Regions from separate parts of the Homo sapiens genome. Here region 1 is linked to region 2. A link means that fine-mapping ties the variant in region 2 to the expression of a gene that starts in the linked region. Tissue or cell type: whole blood. Region 2 holds a variant in brackets; the other region holds the start of a gene. All regions are shown on one strand. Distances are from middle to middle.

Region 1 (4,241 bases), 91 kb after region 2:
TTTCTATTTCAGGAGTTTTTTTGTTTTGTTTTGTTTTTTGAGACGGAGTCTCGCTCTGTTGCCAGGCTGGAGTGCAGTGGCGTGATCTTGGCTCACTGCAATATCCACCTCCCGGGCTCAAGTGATTCTCTTGCCTCAGCCTCCCAAGTAGCTGGGATTACAGGCATGGGCCACCACACCCAACTAATTTTTGTATTTTTAGTAGAGATGGGGTTTCACCATGTTGGCCAGGATGGTCTCGATCTCTTGACCTCAATGATCCGCCCGCCTCGGCCTCCCAAATTATTTCAGGAGTTCTTAATCTTTTTGTGCACGGACCTCATTGGCAGTTTGGTGAAGCCTATGGTCCCTTTCTCAGATTTCTTTTAAGTGCATAATTAAATACATGTGATTACAAGGGAAACCAATTATATGGAAATATTAGCAAAACAACAAACTAATATGGTCATAATATATGTACAGCCTTATTATCACATTAAATAACAATGTCTAACGGCGGGTCTAGTAACACCAGAAATTCAAAGAAGTGTTAACCATAAATGATATTCTGAGCTATCTGCAACTGTAAACATGATGCAAAAATATCCGTAATTTTTATTGATCACAAAGTCATAGGCGCTGCTAATGCTACTCTGGCTTGTTGTCCACATTCGTAACTGAAGGAAATAATAAGTTTCAGTTAGCAGTCAATAAAAATAATGATGTCATTTTATCCTCCTTCTAGTGAAAGGACCCTTCTAATTCTATCCATCAATGAACTCCAGTTTAAAACCCCTCTCTAGTTCAAAGTCCTGCTCAGAACTGATTTTCGTCATAAATTTAAAAATAAAAACACTGATTCCTCCTTTGACCTAGTTCTCATCTGAACCTATCACTATGTCTCCCTGTTTTTATGCACATTTATACACAGAACCCTGGGTGTACTTCTGTGGTTTGCCTAGCCAGCACTCACTACAATTTTGCCAGTCAATAAAAGGTGAAGTTAAAAGAAAAGGGATGGAAACAACCAACAGCTCCCTCACTTTCAGACCTCCGACAGCAAGTGGAAAGATGCCAAGTACAGTGAGTGTCTGTGTTAGGTGGGCTGCCCCCAGACCCGTGTGTCCAGCTTGTCAAGCTTCCCTGCAGCACGATATCTTTATCAGCGACACTCAGAAGACATTCCATTTCGTTCTCGCCTCCTATACTCAGTTCCCTACCTGCCGGGCCTCTCGTCTCTGGCCCCCACCCGAGGCCGCCCCGCGGTCCTCCTGTCCCTTCCCATCCCATCCCCCACGCGTCTCTCCCTCTCCTCAGCCCCAGGCCGCCCTGGCTCCTGCGCGCCGCCACATCTCTCCCCTGGGTCTAACCCAGTGTCCCCCGACCCCCACCTCGCCCGACACTGACGGGAAGAGCCCAGGACCCCGGGGTCAGTTGGACCTGACGGCCGGGCAGTCAGAGACAGGCTGCGGCCCTAGGCCGGAGCAACCCGGCCGCGAGGCAGGGAGCCGCTCACAGCCCGCGGACTAAATCGGGACGCGTACTCACCAAGGGGGTCATGCGGGGGAGGACACGGAGGACTCTGTCGGACCGCCACTCGGCCTCGGAGCCGTCGCCCTAGCCGGTGACTGCCCCCGCCGCCGCTGCCGCCACCTTCGCCACTCGCCTGTTGGCTTCCCTGCGTCCTGCAGCGGCGCTGCCGCCACGCCAGCGCGCGTGCGCAGCGCCGCGGGGGCCTCTGGGAGCTGTAGTTCCGCCCGGGCGGCTAGGGGCTCCCACTTCCGCCTTAGGCAGCCCTAGGTCAGCTGCCCCCTGAGGCTGTCGTGGGTGTCCGGGTCCGGAATCGTCTTCCGGAAGGCTGTTCACCAGGCCTGGGCCCTGGTTTCCGCCTGCAGTAATGCTGGACGTGAAGAATCCGACTGAGCAAGTATGTGTAAAGCAAAAATGTAGAGCGTTTTATGCTTTCTGTGACAACGCTCAGTTGCCCAGGACACATTATTCGCATGAATGACTCTCTCTCTTCTCTGTTTCTCTCTCACACGTACGCACACACTACTTACAAACCTCCCTTCCCTTTTTTTTTTTTTTTCGAGACGGAGTCTGGCTCTGTCGCCCAGGCTGGAGTGCAGTGGCTCAATCTCGGCTCACTGCAAGCTCCGCCTCCCGGGTTCACGCCATTCTCCCGCCTCAGCCTCCCAAGTAGCTGGAACTACAAGCGCCCGCCACCACGCCCGGCTAATTTTTTGATTTTTAGTAGAGACGAGGTTTCACCGTGTTAGCCAGGATGGTCTCGATCTCCTGACCTCGTGATCCGCCCGCCTCGGCCTCCCAAAGTGCTGGGATTACAGGCGTGAGCCACCGCTGCCGGCCCCTCCCTTCCCTTTTGTTCTAAGTGCCATTAATTGGTTTGGATGGTATCTGGATTTTCAGTGTAAAACCTGCCTTCCCACTTCTCAGTTTCTAAAATCTTGCTTATCATAAACTTCACCATGCAGTTATTTTAGGTAAGTCAATAAATGAACTGTCTAATAATTTTTGTAACACCATAACTCATATATTCAGAGGTCAAGTTAGCTGAGTTGAACAGTCTAGAAACCTTAAAATTGGAAGATACCTGCTTAAAGGTCACTAGTGCAACTGTTGCCCAGGCAGGAATTCCCTCCTGTACATTCAGCCAGATGGTCATCTTCCTGTTCAACAGTTCAAATTTCAGGGAGCTCACTCCCTCAAGTAATGCAGCCTGCTCCACTGTTGGACAGCTCTAAATGTTAGAAAGTTCTGCCTCCTGCTGAGCTGAAATCTGTTTCCCTTTATTTCCTTCCATTGCTGGTAGTTAGGCTGCCTGGAGCAATACAGAATGTCTTCCACTTGACAGATCTTCAAAAAATTGAGAACAATGATTATATCCTCCAATACTGGGAGTCTCCAGGCAAAAAAAGGAAAAAAGTAATAATCATTTCCCCAGCTATTTCAAATGTCAATCAACTCCCAAACTGCTTTCTATCTACTCACCTCTCTTGATGTCACCTTTAGGGGCATGGTGGCATATGCCTATAATCCTAGCACTTTGCGAGGCCAAGGCAGGAGGATTGCTTGAGCCCAGAAGTTCAAGACCAGCCTGAGCAACATAGTGAAACCCCAACTCTACAAAAAATACAAAAATCAGCGAGGCATGGTGGCTTGCACCTGTAGTCCCAGCTACTAGGGAGGCTGAAGTGGGAGGATCACCAAGCCCAAAAAGGTCAAGGCTGCAGTGAGCTGTGATCATGCCACTGAACTCCATCCTGGGCAGCAGAGTGAAACCTGTCTCAAAACAAAACAGCAACAACAACATTGACAGAATTGCTTCATATTTATTGCCTTGTTTTATGACTACATAGGTAGTAATAGAACCACCTATGGTAGGCTGGTCAGATGTTATTGCTATCGTGCTGCCATTCAACTCATTCAGGAATTCAATCAGCTCTGTTACAAGACATTACTCAATGCACCGCTGGCATGAAATAAGCAAGAGGAGGCCGGGCGCAGTGGCTCACGCCTGTAATCCCAGCACTTTGGGAGGCCGAGGTGGGCGGATCATGAGGTCAGGAGATCGAGACCATCCTGGCTAACACGGTAGAAACCTGTCTCTACTAAAAATACAAAAAATTAGCCGGGCATGGTGGCAGGCGCCTGTAGTCCCAGCTACACGGGAGGCTGAGGCAGGAGAATGGCGTGAACCCGGGAGACGGAGCTTGCAGTGAGTGGAGATCGTGCCACTGCACTCCAGCCTGGGCGACAGAGCGAGACTCTGTCTCAAGAAAAAAAAAAAAAGAAAAGAAATAAGCAAGAGGATACAATTTACAATCTAGGGTAGGATGAAACTGCCACAGATTAAGGATCATCATAATAAGCCAAGGTACAAAGCATTCTGAGATTCTCAGAGAGAATGGCCTTTTCAAGTTGAGGGTTCATGACCTTATGGAAGAGGTGACAGTTAGGAGTTACTGGATGGCTGGATTTCAAGACAAGAGATGGCATTCGTGGACTGCTAAGGAAGAACTCAGCCTTAGCAAAACCACATTCACAGTGGGCTCTGGAACACTGCGTCTGGGTAGGCTGGAGCACCCAGGCCAGGGAGGAAGGGAAGGAGAGGCCCCAAAAGTTGCAAAAGAATCTTCAGGGAAGCTGCATTGCATGTGAGAAGTAAAAAAGGAACTAGAATGGTCAGTTAATCTTCTGAGCCCTGTTCTGTCACCTACAAATGAAGAACTTGAACTAAC
Region 2 (4,241 bases):
CTTTGCAATAGCCTTTCCAGGTGAGCCTGTGTGGTCTGTAGTCCTTGTCGACAACGAGTGAGATAAGCAATATATGGGGCTCTTTTTCTAAAAGGAAAAATACTTTGCATGACATCAGATATATTCAGTGCATACTCTCTTTGAAGAATAAGGGTCCTAACTTTTCTTTAGAAAAATTACTGCACAGACTGGTTTTACAAAGTAGCATGTCTGTGCTCTCTTCAGTAGCACATATACAAAGTAGCATGTCAGGCTGCAGACATGGTAGAGACTGATCATGGTGCCAGCTGCAGAACAGACACCCATTTTGCATTTTGTTTGGGAGGATCTATGGGGCTGAAGACTTAGTTACCTAATTCACTAAATGTTACTAAGCCCCTCTGCATACTTGGTGTATTTTATACTGGAGCTATAGGACCTCATACTTAATAGGAAATTGACAGCTACAGATGACCAACAATAACAACAAATACAGGTTATATGTCACTAGGTCACAAACATCCCCCACCAATTACTTGCTTATAGTCTAAATGTCACATTTACTAGAGTGCCCATTCCCTAAGCCTTGAAGCCTCCTCACTACCTAAGCATCTCAGTTACATTTTTCTCCATAATCATGAGCAGGGGACTGGCAGCAGAAAAAGCACAGCAATTCCTAAGGCTACTTACATCTGCTTCTCTGGTCCAGGAAAGTAGGCTTTCCTATCACCACTAAGAAAAGAAATATGATATTCTAGTTGTTCTAGCCTCAAAATATAGGCATACCTCTTTACCTGCTTTTGTGCAAAGCTGAAGTAAATTGCACTCTTCTATTTGGAACTGCTCATTTGTAACTACATTTCCAGAGTAAATATCCAAATATGTTGCTTAGAAATTGATATGATTTGGCTGTATTCCCCACCCACATCTCATCTTGAATTTCCATGTGTTGTGGGAGGGAATTGAATCATGGAGGCATGTCTTTCCTGTGCTGTTCTCGTGATACTAAGTCTCAAGAGATCTGATTGTTTTAAAAAACGGAATTTCCCTGCACAAGCTCTCTTCTCTTGTCTGCTGCCATGTGAAATGTGCCTTTCACTTTCCGCCATAATTTTGAGGCCTCCCCAGCCACATGGAACTGTTAAGTCCAATTAAACCTCTTTCTTTTGTTAAATTGCCCAGTCTCAGGTATGTCTTTATCAGCAGCATAATAACAGACAAATACAGTAAATTGGTACCGAGAGTGGGGTACTGCTAAAAAGACACCCGAAAATGTGAAAGCAGCTTTGGAACTGGGTAACAGGCAGAGGATGGAACAGTTTGGAGGGCTCAGAAGAAGACAGGAAAATGTGGGAAAGTATGGAACTTCCTAGAGATTTGTTGAATGGCTTTGACGAAAATGCTGACAGTGATATGAACGATAAGGTCCAGGCTGAGGTGGAGATGAGGAACTTGTTGGGAACTGGTGCAAAGGTGACTCTTGTTATGTTTTAGCAAAGACACTGGTGGCATTTTGCCCTTGCCCTAGAGATTTGTGGAACTTTGAACTTGAGAAAGATGATTTAGAGTATCTGGCAGAAGAAATTTCTAAGCAGCAAAGCATTCAAGAGGTGACTTGGGTGCTATTAAAGGTATTCATTTTTTTTTTTTTCTTGAGACAGAGTTTCACTCTTGTTGCCCAGCCTGGAGTGCAGTGGCGTGATCTCAGCTCACTGTAACCTCCGCTTCCAGGTTCAAGCGATTCTCCTGTCTCAGCCTCCCAAGTAGCTAGGATTACAGGAACCCACCACCATACCTAGCTAATTTTTTGTATTTTTAGGAGAGACAGAGTTTCACCATGTCAGCCAGGCTGGTCTTGAACTCCTGACCTCGGGTGATCCACCTGCCTTGGCCTCCCAAAGTGCTAGGATTACAGGCATGAGCTACCATGCTGGCCAGCATACAGTTTTATAAGGGAAACAGAGCATAAACGTTCAGAAACTTTGCAGCCTGACAATGCGATAGAAAACAAAATCCCATTTTCTGAGAAGAAATTCACGCTGGCTATAGAAATTTGCATAAGTAATGAGGAGCTGAATATTAATTCCCAAGACAATGGGGAAAATGTCTCCAGGGCATGTCAGAGGTCTCCATGGCAGACCCTCTCATCACAGGCCCAGAGGCCTAGGAGGAAAAATGGTTTCATGGGCCAGGCCCAGGGTCCCCATGCTGTGTGCAGCCTAGGGACTTGGTGCCCTGCCCTCCGGCCGCTCTAGCCATGGCTGAAAGGGGCCAACACAGAGCTCAGGCTGTGGCTTCAGAGAGTGCAAGCCCCAAGCCTCGGCAGATTCCATGAGGTGTTGAGCCTGTGGGTGCACAGAAGTCAAGAATGGGGTTTGGGAACCTCCACCTAGATTTCAAAAGATGTATAGAAACGCCTGGATGCCCAGGCAGAAGTTTGCC[G/A]CAGGGGCAGGGTCCTCATGGGGAACCTCTGCAAGGGCAGTGCGGAAAGGAAATGTGGGATCGGAGCCCCCACAAAGAGTCCCTACTGGGGCACTGCCTAGTAGAGCTGTGAGAAGAGAGCCACTGTCTTCCAGAATTCAGAATGGCAGATCCACTGACAGTTTGCACCGTGCACCTAGAAAAGCCAGCAACTCCACACCAGCCCATGAAAGCAGCCAGAAAAGTGGCTATACCCTGCAAAGCCACAGGAGCGGAGCTGCCTAAGACCATGGGAACCCTGGCTGGGTGTGGTGGCTGACACCTGTAATCCCAGCACTTTGGGAGGCTGAGTTAGGTGGATCACTTGAGGTCAGGAGTTCAAGACCAGCCTGGCTAATATGGTGACATCCCATCTCTACTAAAAAATACAAAATTAGCCAGGCGTGGTGGCGCATGCCTGTAATCCCAGCTACTTGGGAGGCTGAGGCAGGGGAACTGCTTGAACCCAGGAGGCAGAGGTTGCAGTGAGCCAAGATCGCACCATTGCACTCCAGCCTGGGCAACAAGAGCGAAATTCCATCTCGGGGGAAAAAAAAAAAAGAAAGACCATGGGAACCCACCTCTTGCATCAGCGTGACCTGGATGTGAGCCACGGAGTCAAAGGAGTTCATTTTGAAGCTTTAAGATTTGACTGCCCTGCTGGATTTCAGACTTGGATGGGGCCTGTAGCCCCTTTGTTTCTGCCAATTTTTCTCATTTGGAATGGCTGTATTTACCCAATGCCTGCACCTCCATTGTATCTAGGAAGTAACTAACTTGATTTTGATTTTACAGGTTCATAGGCAGAAAGGACTTGCCTTGTCTCAGATGAAATTTTTGACTGTGGACTTTTGAGTTAATGCTAAAATGAGTTAAGACTTTGGGCAACTGTTGGGAAGGCATGATTGGTTTTGAAATGTGAGAACATGAGTTGGGAGAAGCAAGGGGCAGAAAGATATGGTTTGGCTGTGTCCCCACCCGAATCTCATCTTGAATTCCCATGTGTTGTGGGAGGGACCCAGTGGGAGGTAATTGAATCAATGGGGACAGGTCTTTCCTGTGCTGTTCTCGTGATAGTGAATAAGTCTCACAAGATCTGATGGTTTTGAAAAAGGGGGGTTTCCCTGAACAAGTTCTCTTCTCTTGTCTGCTGCCATGTGAGATGTGCCTTTCACCTTCCGCCATGATTGTGAGGCCTCCCAGCCACATGGAACTGTAAGTCCAATAAACCTCTTCTTTGGTAAATTGGCTAGTCTCGGGTATATCTTTATCAGCAGCGTGAGAACAGACTAACACAGAAATCTACATCCAGGAAAATACAGCCAAGCACTTTGTAGGAAGCCTAGATTCATTTCTGAAATAAGGATAAAAAAGAAAACACTTGCAGCTAACAACTAGGTTTAAAAGCTGAACAGGTGGGGTATATTACCTGTAGTCCTCAGCAATCGAAGCCAGCAGTTTCCTACAAGTCCTATTATCAAAACGGCACACACAGCGCATTGTTTCTTGAAGTTGAGCCATTAGATTCTTATCTTGTAAATTAATTGCTTCAGCTATTTGAACTTTTAAGAAGCATACAATTTCATTGTCTAAATAAAAGATACAAGAATTCTGTTATTCTTGAGAATTTCCATGTGCTTAAATAAGCTAATTCAGCATTTGGGACGTCAATTCTGCTTTGTCACGTATCATTAGAACTAAGCTGTATTGCCACTCCCAATTAGAAAATACTTTAATAAATCATCAGTAATCAAAGTGCCCTTAAGTGATACTAATGTAAACATATTAAGTTGAACCATATG

The links. PIP is the estimated chance that this variant, and not a neighbour inherited with it, causes the effect.
Region 1: it holds the start of GAPVD1, and the variant in region 2 is fine-mapped to the expression of GAPVD1 in whole blood (TOPMed, PIP above 0.99).

The regions. Positions count from the first base shown.
Region 1 is chr9:125,259,246-125,263,486 of GRCh38, reverse strand. It overlaps GAPVD1 (GTPase activating protein and VPS9 domains 1), which reads right to left and starts at 1,661. Exons shown (of 28, transcript NM_001282680.3): 1 at 1,528-1,661. RefSeq lists silencers at 1,515-1,644, 1,583-1,764.
Region 2 is chr9:125,350,500-125,354,740 of GRCh38, reverse strand. GAPVD1 (GTPase activating protein and VPS9 domains 1) reads right to left here. Exons shown (of 28, transcript NM_001282680.3): 23 at 3,869-4,028; 24 at 1-87. Among named protein-coding and RNA genes, the nearest start is that of GAPVD1, 91 kb to the right of the region's middle. RefSeq lists a silencer at 1,721-1,894. The variant G/A (reference allele first, on the strand shown) is at 2,422.